2 linked regions of the Homo sapiens genome follow. The protein of the gene in region 2 purifies or fractionates together with the protein of the main gene of each other region. This does not show direct contact. Each region holds a gene or a part of one and is shown on either strand. Other genes may lie near its edges.

Region 1 (7,200 bases), on a different chromosome or scaffold from region 2:
AAAAGTTTACATGGAGAAGGCGGTTCCGTTCTGAAGCGCGGTCTGCTGTCCTTTTGGGCGCGAGGCATGTGGTGTTCGCTGTGAAGCCTCCTGGGCCTGTTGGTCCTCCGATTTCATCCTCGGGACATAATGCTTACCAACAGTACTTGCACTGAGTTGACACTCGTGCACTCTTGACTCCAGATGTTTTTCAAAATGTATGTTCACACCAATAATTGCCTACTTCAGAGGCTAATAAGACAAAACCAATAAAACTGAGTGATGGTGTCTGTATTGGGAAAAAAAAAAGTGTTCCATGTTCTTTCTCACCTACGTTTCTGCCCACCTTTCCCTCTAAAAGTTCCTTCCCCATCCCTGCCCTAGCCCCCCAATTTCTGCATTAGTCATGACTAAGCCTTCTTTAAGCTTAAGGACATAAAATATACAGTACCTAATACAGTGCCTGACCTATAGCAGAGGGTTAAAAATGGGCTGAGCTGGCTTAGGTCTCTTCTTTGTCCTCTCAATGACTCCTATTTGCTTATAAAATAAAATTGTAATTATTCTGATGGTCTGCAAGATCCATAATTTGGTCTCTGCCTATCTCCCCAGTTTCAGGTCTTGCCACCACCCTGTATTATACTTGCTATTTTTGCAGATGCTACTCTCTAATTTTAGACTCCCATGCTTTTTCTCACACTGCTCCTTCTACCTAAATGCCCATTCTTTCTATGCCTGTACACTCCTGATTTTCATCACCTTCTACATAGTTTTTCCTTACAGTTTCCCTCTTCTTCAGCTCTTTTCTTCACTTTAAGAAACTGACCACTATCTCCTTTGTACATCCACTGTACCCGCATATGTTCTTCAATCAAAACAATCTTGTACTTGTTGACAGTTAAAGTAAGAGATAAGGTTCAACTACCCTGAAGGCAGGAACACTGCCTTCTGTATCTTTAAGTCCTCTTCACCTGGTCACAGTACTTTCTACATAGTAATTCCTGTATTCTAAATAATCTGCATTTTTCCTTGTACCCTCTTATACAAACTAACATAAGTTTCTATCAGGGATCTTTCAAAACAGAAACAATATTCTTTTGGGTTACATGCTGGGCCCGATCTCTTCTTGCCAAGCAAACAACTATGCAAATATAACTGTACAAATTAAAGTTATTATGCACTTTCTGATACCACTTTCCTATTCTAAATTAGGGGAGAAATAGTCTGGATAAGATCCATAATTAGAAACAATATCCTGAAGAGAAAGCAAACTAAGTTGTATTACATTGTTTCGAGATACCTTGTTTAAAGAGTCACTTCTCAAAAGCTACTACTGTTGGCAGGGCGCGGTGGCACACGCCTGTAATCCCAGCGCTTTGGGAGGCCTAGGCGGGCAGATCACCTGAGGTCGGGAGTTCAAGACCAGCCTGACCAACATGGAGAAAATGTCTCTACTAAAAATATAAAATTAGCCGGGCGTGATGGCGCATGCCTGTAATCCCCTCAGGAGGCTGAGGCAGCAGAATCGTTTGAACCCAGGAGGCAGAGGCTGTGGTGAGCTGAGATCATGCCATTGCACTCCAACCTGGGCAACAAGAGCGAAACTCTGTCTCAAAAAATAAAAAACTAAAAAAAAAAAAAAAAAGCTACTGTTAACTAACCTACCCCACTTGGATCTACCAGATACTTTGAATGAGAGGTGGAAACCACTCTACTGACCTCCTTCCTACCCCTACTACCGCCACTCCAGCTTACAGTAATTATTTTCACAAAGACAGAAAGGAGTTATCAAATGACCACAATAACTCTAAAAACAGAAAGTGAGGTGATCTTTCTTATTCACAGTCCCACTTATTCATTTAGAAATGCTGAGCACCAAAACAAAACCTTATCACAAGTTCAGTATTTCGTTAATAACTGCCAAGTATAATGGAATACTCCCCAAAGTACTGCAGCATTAGAACATGACCACTCCACTAAATTAAAAATTCAGCGAAAGCTTTTCTAACAAGGCTGGATGGAGCACTAACTCAACGGCCAAACGGCTGCACTTCCTGTATATGCACGTTCAAAACACCTCGAATTAACATGCTAGGGACCTTGAAGAATTGTACTAGGCCTTGCTCAAGAGGAAGGCTTTGTAATACTGAATCCCAAAACTTGAAACAGCAGAATTACTTCAGGGAAGACGGAGGTGTTAAATATTCTGTAAAACCTGTTTCACTCTCACAACGATCAGTTTTAAAAAAAAGAGGGAGAACACTGACCTCATTAAGAGCATTCTGACAACACACATAGTTGAACATGAGTTGTGAAAAGAATTTTCAACTTCAGATCTGTCTGTCCATTCCCACTGAAACCTGAAGGAAGGATCGCAGCACCCAAAGGCGCCCACTGCTCAGTGCCAGCGGTGGGCGACACCAGGAGCCTGTCCTGGTCCCCTGGGTAAGCCCTGGAGCCTGGCCACTATGCCGGGCACGATCCACCAACCGTGAGGGCTGGGTCCCCTAGCCTCTGTCCAGGCGCCCCCCAAGAGCTTCCCCGAGGCCTGGGGACTCCTAACTCTCCACCCCCGGCCCCCGAGAGCACCACAAACGAGGACGCCACGAAGGGAGGCCCGTCGGCCAGTGGGAGGGACGCACGGCCAAGGGGGGCGAAAACTGGGGCGAAGCTTTCCGGGGAGGAACCCACGCCAGGGGCAGCCACGCCCCCCACCCCCAACTTCAAACCCGAGCGCTGCGAGCACCGAGCCCCACACGCTGCCTGACAGACGCGGGCGCGAGGCCGGCGCGGGAGAGGGTTCCTCGGGCACTCCAGGGGTATCGCCGCGACCCTAGCACGCGACCGCTCCCTGCGACTGACCTGTGCCTGCCGCCGCGCGACCGTCCGCCCCGCCGCAGCCTCCGCCTCCTCGCGCTCACGCTGCCGCCGCAGCCACCGGAGCCGCCTCCTGCGCTGCGCCCCAGGCCGGCCTCGGGCGCCCCATTCCCACCCCGCCCAGCCTCTGCCTGTTTACAATGATTGGGACGGAACGGGACGAGGCGGTCCAGCGCGCACGCGCATTCCCTCCTCCCGCCGCAGCCGGCTTCCCGGATCCTCCTCTCCGCTCAGACGGCTGAAGCCGTCAAGGGCAGGCGACCTGGGCTCTCGCGCGGGGCGCGCTGGGAGGCGTAGTTCCCAAGGCCCCGGCGTCCAGCCAGCCCGAAGGCCTCTCGCCAAGGAAGCAAACTACAACACCCAGGAGGCACCGCGCCCCCTTCGTCCCCAGGCTCGCTGAGGAGACTGAAGAAGAGCGCGAGAGAACGCGCCGAGGGCCAGTGCTCTGCAGGCGCCTGCGCAGTCGGTGGCCTTGCGGGTTTCGGGGACGGACGGCTTACCCCGGTGTGGTGCTGGCGAAGGTGGCTCGCGGGCATCTCCTGCAACGGCCTTGAGGATGGAAAGGGCTTTCCTCTCCACGCTCTGGCCAGCCTGCGCCTCAGCTCCCGAAGTTGAGAGCTTTCCTTGCGCCAGCGTGCTTTAGTCGTTCCAACCAGTTAAACCAGACTGGGGGCCGCCCGGCTGGCCGCTGGGTGGGGCGGCTGCCCCGCCTTCGACTGGGTGTGGGATTGGAGGAAAGAGCGCCGTGGGCCTGTAGGGATAGGCGGGAATAAACCTCTGTCGGGAACATCCACGGAATTCCTGAAGCGGGTGTGGGCTTCTGCAGGGCTTCAGCGCGCCCCCGGCTCAGCAGTTACCGAGCAGCCCCCGAGGAAAGCTGCCCAGTCCGTGTTTGGCTGGCAGTAGAGATAACTGAATTTCTTCGAGAAGCCTTTCACCCAGGCTTGTTGAGTTGCTCTGCTAATGCGTAGCGAAGGCTGGAAACGGCTTCAGCAGTCTTCGTGTTTTCTGAAATGTGGCAGTTTATTAGGGGAGAGGAGGGACTTGGAATAGACGACCCTACCTGTCACTCGCATTCCTACGTGCAGCACTCTGTGGCACTTCGTTGCCCGTTTAGATTGGCCGCTGCTATCCATCTTGCTCTCTGCTCCCACATCAGCTTTCCTCAAAGCGGGCGGTAAATTTGTCCCTAGTACTCTGCGCTCCCTACTCAGTAAAGTTCAACCCCTGGGGCCTTAGATTCATTCAGGGGCCTCCCACGAGTGGATACGGGATGGTCTGAGGTAGCCATTGGTCTTTGACTTTCGGAAAAGCCTTCTCATGGCTCCTCTCGCAGTAGAACAGTCTTCTCTGACCACTGGGTTGGGCAGGTGAGCATGGCAGTGACAATTCTCTGCCTGTGACAGCACTGATTCGGCCAAGGGGCAGGCACTGATCCACGCTGGGCCTTATGGAGGCCTTGCCTGAAGCTGCTATGTGGATGCAGGAGGGGAGCAGAGGGAGTTTTCTACTGAGGCAATTGCTGATGGACGTGTTTCTTGCAACATCGAGTGGCCTAGCCAAAGGTGAGGGTGTGAAAGAGAAGAAAGGAGAAATGGAAAGGGAGAAAGAGCTGGCAGAATGTAGACCGTGGTTTCATTTGGAGGGCATGGTTTGTGGAGCTCTTTAAGTGCTGTGAGCATGTGAGCCTAAGTGGGTGAGCCCACTCATTCATTGATTTATTATTTGGAGCCAATATGTGTGGATATTGAATGTATTTGTTGGCTGCCACTTGAGCATTTATTCCTTCCATTTAAGCCAGGCAACATAACCATTCCCTCTAGCAGCAGAGATGGTCACAAGCCCAGTCAGAAACAATGAACCCACAAAGACTGGGGCTGAGGCTTCCAGTAAACTGTAGCTTCCTTGCTCCTCTAGCATGGTGTAAGTATATGATGCCTGGAAATGTGGCAACCGTTTTCCTCCTATAAGGGGAAACCCTAGAGGGATGGGAGTTTAGAGGGACAGCAACAAGTAGAGCCTGGGGTTGAAGTCAGTACTGTCAAATGAATGCGGGAAAGATGGAGAAGAACCTTGTGTTTGGTGGCATGATTTGAGCTGCAGTATCAAACCTCACCTGTTTGATTCTATGGACTATCCTATAGACTATTCGGGATTGTGAGCAAGGCCATCTTACAGACTATCCAGAATTGTGAACCACAAATTTCCTGTACTGTTTAAGCCAGTTCATATTAAAATTCTAAAAGTCCTAACTAATTCAGTTGAATTTCTTTTACATGACTCTGAAAGGTCCTAACTAATACAGGTTCCTACGTAAAAAACTGTGGAAGGGACTTTTAGCTATGTCTGTGTGGCATAGTCAGCAATTCTCTGCACACAAAACCAGTATAAAATTGGATAAATTGGCAAAAACAACCATTTCAGAGCACTGGAAATCAAACAAATACAGAAAACAATTTGAGAAACATCTATTCTTCAGAAACAGCTAGCAGGGACAGTAGATGTCTGTGGCCTTCTGGCCTGAGGCTGCTTCTCTCCCACCCTGTTGCACCAGAACTGCAGTTTTGCCAGTGTGGGTAGGAATAGCCAAGAAAACTAGCAGCTTTGCTGCCAAAGGGATGGACTCAATTTGGGGCGGGTGGTCAAAAACCCAAGGCTTTGCCAACTAAAAGTGACAAACTCATATGGAAATGAACAGGGCAAACCCACAGCTGTGCTTACCTGAGGTTACAGTCCCAGGTGGGGCAAATGGCAAGCCAGTCAAAAATATAACAGGGAGATTTTAGAAATAAGAGTCATTGAAGAGTTATGGTCACACCACCTCACTCCAGCCTGTACTTTTCAACTCTAGAAATATCATCCTTTTTTATAGAGTCTACTTCCCCACAGAAATACTCTATTTGTTAATTACATCTCCACACATCTCTGACTGATTGGGAAACTATGCATCTGCCTGGGGTTGACCCAAGAGACCTGTTAAGTAAATCCAAGGGAGACTTGAGAACTGGTGGCAACTGTGAATGTATTCCTTAATCCACACACAGATCCATTAGCAGAGGGAAGAAGACTCCCAAATCAAGGTGTTTGAGTGCAACCACTGCCAAATCATTGACTAGCCACAGCTATGCAAACACAGGGACAAAGCCCAGAAAGTCAGGGTAAATATAAAAATGTGAATTGAAAAACAGAGCAAAGATACCAGCAGCCACAGGCCATATAGAGACAGATTTTAAATCTGTGTAAATCCAGGAAGATAAAACAACAACAACAACAACAACAAAACTAAGAAAAATAAAACATCTAGAATTGCTGCAATATATGAAATATCTGCTTTTCAACCAACAATCATGGTTTATGCAAAGAAACAGTAAAGTGTCACCCACTCTGAGGAAGAAAATAGCAACCAATAGAAACAGACCCATTGGGCTCAAATACTGGATTCAGAAGCAAACTCTTGAAAGTAGGTCTTATAATTATGTTTTAAAAAGTAAACATTTTTCAAAGAATTAAAGGAAAATATAATGATAATTCTTTAACATATAAAGGATATCAATAGGGAAATGATTCTATAAAAATGAAATTTCTAGAGTTGAAAAATATAGAAGAGAAATATAAATTGTATTACATAATCTCAGTGAAAGATTTGAGATGGCAAAAAAGGTGTACTTGAAGATAGAGAAATTATCGTATTCAAAAAACAGAAAAATGAAGTAAAAGAAGAGCTATAATGACACATCCATAAAAAAGAGGATATTTTTAGCAATAAGCCAGACTCAAGGACATAGACTGTAGCTTTAAATAGAAAAAGAAAAAACAGGGAATGTAAACTAGTACAACCACTATGGAAAACAGTATGGAGTTTCCTTAAACAACTAAAAGTAGAACTACCATTTGATCCAGCAATCCCACTATTGGGTATCTATGCAAAGGAAAAGAAGTCATTATATGAAAAACATATGCACACACATGTTTATAGCAGCACAATTTGCAATTCAAAAGATATAGAACCAACCTGGGTGTCCATCAACCAATGAGTGGGTAAAGAAAATGTGATATATATATAATATCTTATATAATATATATAATATATATGATATATCATATATTATTATAATATATATAATATATATATATATATACCATGAAATACTACACAGCCATAAAAAGGAATGAAATAGTCTTTTGCAGCAACTTGGGTGAAGCTGGAGGCCATTATTCTAAATGAAGCAACTCAGGAATGGAAAACCAAATACCGTGTGTTCTCACTTATACTTGGGAGCTAAGCTATGAGAATGCAAAGGCATAAGAATGATATAGTGGACTTTGGGGACTTGGGGCGGGGCA
Region 2 (7,022 bases):
GAAAAGGCTCGTGTTTGCTTCTGTGAAGCACTAGGGAACCTCCAGTTTCCATCACTTTAAACTAAAGGTTGACTTAGGGGCTTTTGGACTACCCAGATAGGGTAAAGTCAGGCTGAAAACCAGTCTGAGGGCTGCTCCGTGCCAACGTTTCAGACAGGTAATTTTCCTCATAGTCCCCAAGGGGGTTTATTTCTAGGTCACTCTCACTTTGAAGTACAGCCTTCGAGAACTTCTCGGACAAGCTTTGTCTTCTGTTCCCAGAGGCTGCAGGGCCCCAAAACCGATACTCGGGTTCACCCAGTTCAGCAAATGCCTTCTAAGCAAATGCTGGCTCCAGCACGCGGCTCATCTGCTTGGGTGCCCGGCTTCTCTTAGCTTGTGGCCTGTGTGCTCCTCATTTTCTGGCTACCTCATGAATCCATTAAATAATATTGTCTTTCCTCTTTTATCCAATATTGACAGTTAGGTTTCAGGGAGAACATGAGTCGGGTATCTAGCTGACCACACTGCCAGAAATAGAAGTCTCACCTGTGTGCACACCAAGCTGGAGTACACTGGCGCAACCACAACTCATTGCAGCCTAGGCCTCCCCAGCTCAGGAGATCCTCCCACCTCAGCTTCCCGAGTAGCTGGGACTATAGGTGCACGCCACCATGCCCTGGCAATTTTTGGTATTTTTAGTAGAGATTGGGATTTTGCCATGTTGCCCAGGCTGGTCTCAAACTCCTAGACTCAAGCAATCTACCTGCCTCAGCCTCCCCAAATGCAGCGATTACATGAGCCATCGCACCTGGCAAATTCTACACTTCATCCTGCAATTCTTCCATCACCATTTGTCTCCTGCTCCAGACCATGAACACAGGAGGGCAATGACCGTGTCCATCTCTGGACAATACAACATCCCCAGCAATCAGCACAGTGCCTGGCACATAGTATGTGCTCAGTAAATGTTTGGTGAATGAATGGAGAAGATGAGGAAGTTCTGGAGGGCCGTCACCCACATAGCACAGTTACGCCTCTTATCGTAGGTGTTAGAATTCTGCAGTTCAGAAACACCCCACTGGCTTTGCCGGGAGCAGCCTCACACCATCAAGTCAGCTTCGTATCACGGGAAGAGACAAGTATGGGGCTGCCACCGGAACCACTGGGTCCCCAGCCCAGCGTTAGCCCACATCTCGGCTGGGAGACCTTGGGCAGGCAACAGAGCCTCTCTGAGCCTCACACTTGGCTGGGACTCATCACCCCCAGGCCCCCCACTGCCAACGGGTCCCCAGTGCCTTACCCGGCCACCAGGATGCGGGGGATGTCAGCGGCAAAGGCCTCGCCCATCTCCCGGCTGCCCACGTTGGCGATGCAGTGCAGGGCCAGGCACATGAAGGTGGGGTTGCGGCTGGCCAGGTCATTCTTGATGGCGTTGTTGATGAGGCGGATCAGCTCCGAGTTCGAGTTCACCAGCACAGAAATGAACAGGTAACCCTGTGGGGAGGGAGGTCGTGGATGGCTAGGAGCCTTGTGACTGAGTGGCCCCAGATCCAACCCTCAGACCCAGGAGTCCAGGCCCCAGATTCAACCTCAGACCCAGGAGTCCAGGCCCCCAGGCCCCTCCTCCCTCAGACCCACAAGTCCAGGCCCCCAGGCCCCTCCTCCCTCAGACCCACGAGTCCAGGCCCCAGATTCAACCCTCAGACCCAGGAGTCTGGGCTTCCAGCCCTCCTCCCTCAGAATGGGGAGTCCAGACCCCCAGCCCCCTCCTCCCTCAGACCCAGCAGTCCAGAGCCCCAGACCCCCTCCTCCCTCATACCCAGGAGTCCAGACCCCTAGACCCCCTCCTCCCCCAGATCCAGGAGTCCAGACCTCCAGCCCCCTCCCCCGCAGACCCAGGAGTCCAGGCCCTGGCACCCCCCTCTCCAGACTCACTATTTGCTTCTCTGTGTATTTATTGGAACTCAACAGATTCACAGCCTCCATGTGCCCAAAGTCAATGTCATGGCCAAGCAGGAAGATGAAAAGCAGTTTACACACATATTTTTTCTTACTGTAGCCATCCAAGGCTTTGTCTCCTAGGGCAGAGGAAGGAGGAAAGGGGAGCCAGAAATAAGGAAGGGTCACAGGATAGGTCACAGGAGCCCCAGCTCCCAGCCCCCTCCTCCCTCAGAACCAGAAGTTGGGCCCCCAGCCTACCTTTGAACTTGGAGCGGATGTTGGCCAGTTCCTTGTTGATTCTCTTAATTTCCGCCTCTTTGCTCTTACCTGGGAGAGGAGGAGGAGGGTAGGCAGTGAGGGGTCTGGGGAGTCAGCCACCTGCCCTCTCTTTCCTAGGCGCGGCCCCACCCAGCAGGAAGGGCAGATCTTCTCCGCCCCCAAGCCCTGGGGCTCAGGACAGGCCAGGACCCCTTCTCTGGCTGGGAGTTTCAAAGAGGGAAGAACCACCGCTGGCTGAGCCCCACAGCACAGAGCACACACCCTTGGGCTGTCCCTGACTTCCTCTCTCCTTCCTCCTACCACTGTGGCCCCTGATTTGTGGGGCTCCTCAGGGCCCCAGACACGCTCCCTGAGAGCTCCTGTCCCCACTCCCCACATGCGATGAACATGTGATGAATGAATGAATGAATAAAGAGCTTGGCTGGCCGCAGGGTGCTCACCCCTACCACTGAGCTCACTGCCTCTTCCAGTTCTCAATCCCATGAAGGTCCCACTGTCCACCCAGTCACCAGGTCAGACCCTTGGGTGCTGTCCTCACCCCCTTTGTCCCCACAGCCATGGCTTTGTCCTCTCCCGCGTGGCCTGTCCCCACTGCCTCCTGTTCTCTGGCTGCCAACCTCTCCCCAATTTGTCTGGGACATTCCTACACCTCTGACAGGACCTGCTTGTGGAATAAGCACAGAAAGCCTCCCCTGATCCTGCAGGCCAGGTCTCTGCTTCCTCCATGCTCCTCAATGCCCTACAGCACCCCCTTCAGAGCACAATCCGACTGGATGCTCTCGGCTGCCCTCTCTGCTTCTCCTGTCCCTGTTCCACTCACCCCAGACTTCATCCCTCCCTTGACAGGTTCTACCGTTCCCTCTTCTCCTCCAAACAGAACCTGGACATCCTCACGCCAATCGGGCTACTGCCTCGTCCTTTTAATTTTTGAGACAGGGTCTTAGACTGTCGCCCAGGCTGCAGTGCAGTGGTGCAATCATAGCTCACTGTGACCTTAAACTCCTGGGATCCAGCGATCCTCCCACCTCAGCCTCCCAAAATGCTGGGATTACAGGTATGAGCCACTGTGCCCAGCCACCTCCTCCTAACTTGACCTTCAGAACATGTCTTGAGCACCTCCACGATGACCACTTCATCCAGATCCCATGCTCGCTCGCTCAGGTCAGTGAAGCAGCCTCCCCTCCAGCCTTCTTGCCTCCCTCGTGTTTCCATATCCTGGGCTCTGTGATGCCAGCTGGGGGTGCTCCACTCCACGGCCCATCAAGTCCTCTGCCCCTGTCACAGCAACCCTGCCGGTGTCACCCCTCAGACCCCTACTGTCCATCCAGGCCCCCTGGCCTCCATTTTGCTCCGGGAACACGCACATCCTCTTGCCTCAAGGGCCTTCACACAAGCTGTGCCCTCTTCCTGGGGCCACCCCTCCCCTGTCATCTTCCCATCATTTGGGTCTCGGCTCCTGCCACCCCTGAAAGGCCGTTCCGTTTCACTTCCTTAAAGTCAATTCTTTATTATTCTGCTTAAAGAGTTATTTTTCAAGAAGTCCTCTCTGGTACATTTCACCATGTCACAATTTTATTTCTCTCCACTGTCGAACTTCCTCCCACTTCAGACTGTAAGCATCAGGAGGGAGCTCCTAGAGCAGTGCCCTGCATACAGCAGGTGCTCTATAAATGTCTAGTTATGGAAGGGGCAGAGATCTGCTCTGACCCACATCCTTCAGGGCGTAGTCCCCAGCAGGGTGGGGTGTGCATTCAACAAATGAGTCAATGACTGAGAAAGCAAGTATATGTGCCATCCTTCTCTCTAGAAATCCTGTCTTGTCCCTGCTCCCAACTTCTATGGAAGCTCCCATAAGCCTCACTTCAGGTATCACCTCCTCCAGGAAGCCCCTCTGATTAGCACCTCCTGATCAGTGCTAAGAGGACCCTAGCGCTGCACCATCCAATATAGCAGTTGCCAGCCAGTGGCTCCTGAGATCCTGAAATGTGGCCATTCCAAACTGAGAGGGGCTGTCAACAGCAAACATACACGGGATTTAGAAGACAGTGTGGAGAAAAAATGTAAAATATTTCAGTAAAAATTATAGGGGCTAGGCGTGGTGGCTCACGCATGTGAGGCAGGAGGATGGCTTGAGCCCAGGAGTTGGAGACCAGCCTGGACAACACAGTGAGAACTTGTGTGTCAACTAAATAAAACAATACAAATTATAAAGTATTGATCACATGCTGAAATAATAATTTGGGTGTACTGGGTTATAGAGACATATTATTAAAATTAATTTTGCCTGTTTCTGTTTTTTTTTTTTTTTTTTTTTTTTGTAGCCCAGGCTGGAGTGCAGTGGTGCAATCTCGGCTCACTGCAACCTCTGCCTCCTGGGTTCAGTGATTCTTGTGCCTCAGCCTCCAAAGTCGCTGGGACTACAGGTGCATAACACCACATTCAACTAATTTTTTTTTTTTTTTTTTTTTGAGACGGAGTCTCACTGTGTCACCCAGGCTGGAGTGCAGTGGCGCAATTTCAGCTCACTGCAACCTCTGCCTCCCAGGTTCAAGCAATTGTCCTGCCTCAGCCTCCCAAGTAGCTGGGACTACAGGCGCCTGCCACCCACCCCTAGCTAATTTTTTGTATTTTTAGTAGAGATGGGGTTTCAGCATGTTAGCCAGCATGGTCTCAATCTCCTGACCTCGTGATCTGCCCACATTGGCCTCTCAAAGTGTTGGGATTACAGGAGTGAGCCACTTCGCCCAGCCCTAATTTTTTTTTTTTTTTTTGGTAGCAATGAGGTCTTACTATGTTGCCCAGGCTGATCTCGAACTCCTGACTTCAAGTGATCCACCTGCCTCAGCCACCCAAAGTGCTGGGATTACAGGTATGAGCCACCATGCCTGGCCTATATATATATGGTTTTGTCATAAATACGTATATATACATATGCATACCATAAATATAGTATATATAAAGAGTATACACATATTTAAAGAATATGTGTTATTTAAATATATGTATTACTTAATTTAAATAATATGTATTATTTCAATACAGTCCTGCCCCGCATATCAACATTTCAGTCAGCAACAAACCGCACACACTGCAGTGGTTCCATACGATTCTAATGCCTTATTTCGACTGCTCCTTTTCTATGTTTAGATGCACAAATACTTACTGAGTCACGGTTGCCTACAGGACAGTCCCATGCTGTGCAGGTTTTTTTGTTTTATCTTGAGACGCAGTTTCACTCTTGTCGCCCAGGCTGGAGAGCAATGGCGTGATCTCAGCTCACTGCAACCTCCGCCTCCTGGGTTCAAGTGATTCTCCTACCTCAGCCTCCTGAGTAGCTGGGATGACAGGCATGCGTCACCACACCCAGCTAATTAGTGTATTTTTAGTAGAGACGAGGTTTCACCACGTTGGCCAGGCTGGTCTCAAACTCCTGACCTCAAGTGATCTGCCTGCCTCAGCCTCCCAAAGTGCTGGGATTACAGGTGTAAGCCACCACGCCTGGCCACTGTGCAGGTTTACAGCCCAGCAGCAACAAGCTGCGCCACAGAGCCTCAGTGAGTGGTGGGCTATACCATCTCAATTTGTGTAAGCACACTCCAGGATGTTCACACCACAACAAAACCACCTAACGATGCATTTCTCAGAACATATCCCCATCGTTAATACACGAGTGTATTCACTCAATTGTACTTGAAATGATTTAAATATATACACAAATATGTGCATGTATATGTATTCTTTAAATATTCTTTAAATTTAAAGAAATATATATCATATGTACTTATATATTTATATTTACGTATTTCTTTAACTAGTATTCATTTAAAGAAATACATATTATTATATCTATAATATATAGATTTCCTCTCTTTTTCTTGAGACGGGGTCTCACTCTTTCACTGAGGTTGGAATGCAATGGTTTGATCTCAGCTCACTGCAGTCTTGGCCCCTTGGGCTCAAATGACCCTCCCATCTCAGCCTCCCAGGTAGCTGGGACTGTGAGGTGCGCCACCACACTCAGCTAATTTTTTTTCTATTTTTTGTAGAGATAGGGTTTTGCCATGTTGCCCAGGGTGGTCTCAACTCCTCCGCCCACCTCAGCCTCCCGAAGTGCTGGGATTATAGGCATGGGCCACCGCTTACTGCCAGGAAATCTTTTTTTTTTTTTTTGTGATGGAGTCTCGCTTTGTCGCCCAGGATGGAGTGCAGTGGCACCATCTCTGCTCACTTCAAGCTCTGCCTCCCAGGTTCACGCCATTCTCCTGCCTCAGCCTCCCAAGTAGCTGGGGCTACAGGCGCCCGCCACCATGCCTGGCTAATTTTTTGTATATTTAGTAGAGATGGGGTTTCACCATGTTAGCTAGGATGGTCTCAATCTCCTGACCTGGTGATCCGCCCGCCTCAGCCTCCCAAAGTGCTATGATTACAGGCATGAGCCACCGCGCCCGGCTGGAAATCTCTTTTTAAAGTATTACTTAAATTGTATTTAAAATGTATTTACATATATATACAAATATGCATATATATGTATATTTTTCTTTAAATAGGCTTTATTTTTACTTTTTTTCTTGAGACAGAGTCTCGCTCTGTCACCCAGGCTACAGTGCAATGGCACCATCTTGGCTCACTGCAACCTCCACCTCCCAGGTTCAAGCGATTCTCCTACCTCAGCCTCCCGAGCAGTTGGGATTACAGGCACCCACCACCACACCTGGCTTTTTTTTTTTTCCGCATTTTTAGTAGAGACAGGGTTTCACCATGTTGACCAGACTGGTTTTGAACTTCTGACCTCAAGTGATCCACCCGCCTCAGCCTCCCAA

The links. The genes of interacting proteins can lie anywhere in the genome.
Region 1: the proteins of AP2A1 (region 2) and RALBP1 purify together in Homo sapiens (affinity purification with mass spectrometry; 5 studies listed by BioGRID and IntAct, with this or other methods). This does not show direct contact.

The regions. Positions count from the first base shown.
Region 1 is NC_000018.10:9,471,333-9,478,532, reverse strand, and holds the start of RALBP1 (ralA-binding protein 1), read right to left. Parts: upstream 3,021-7,200; 5' UTR 2,842-3,020; intron 2,839-2,841; exon of another isoform or gene 2,247-2,838; intron 269-2,246; exon of another isoform or gene 11-268; intron 1-10. UniProt on the Homo sapiens protein: Multifunctional protein that functions as a downstream effector of RALA and RALB. As a GTPase-activating protein/GAP can inactivate CDC42 and RAC1 by stimulating their GTPase activity.
Region 2 is NC_000019.10:49,776,985-49,784,006, reverse strand, and holds part of AP2A1 (AP-2 complex subunit alpha-1), read right to left. Parts: intron 3,603-7,022; exon of another isoform or gene 3,415-3,602; coding exon of another isoform or gene 3,297-3,414; intron 2,251-3,296; coding exon 2,182-2,250; intron 2,061-2,181; coding exon 1,918-2,060; intron 1,477-1,917; coding exon 1,283-1,476; intron 1-1,282.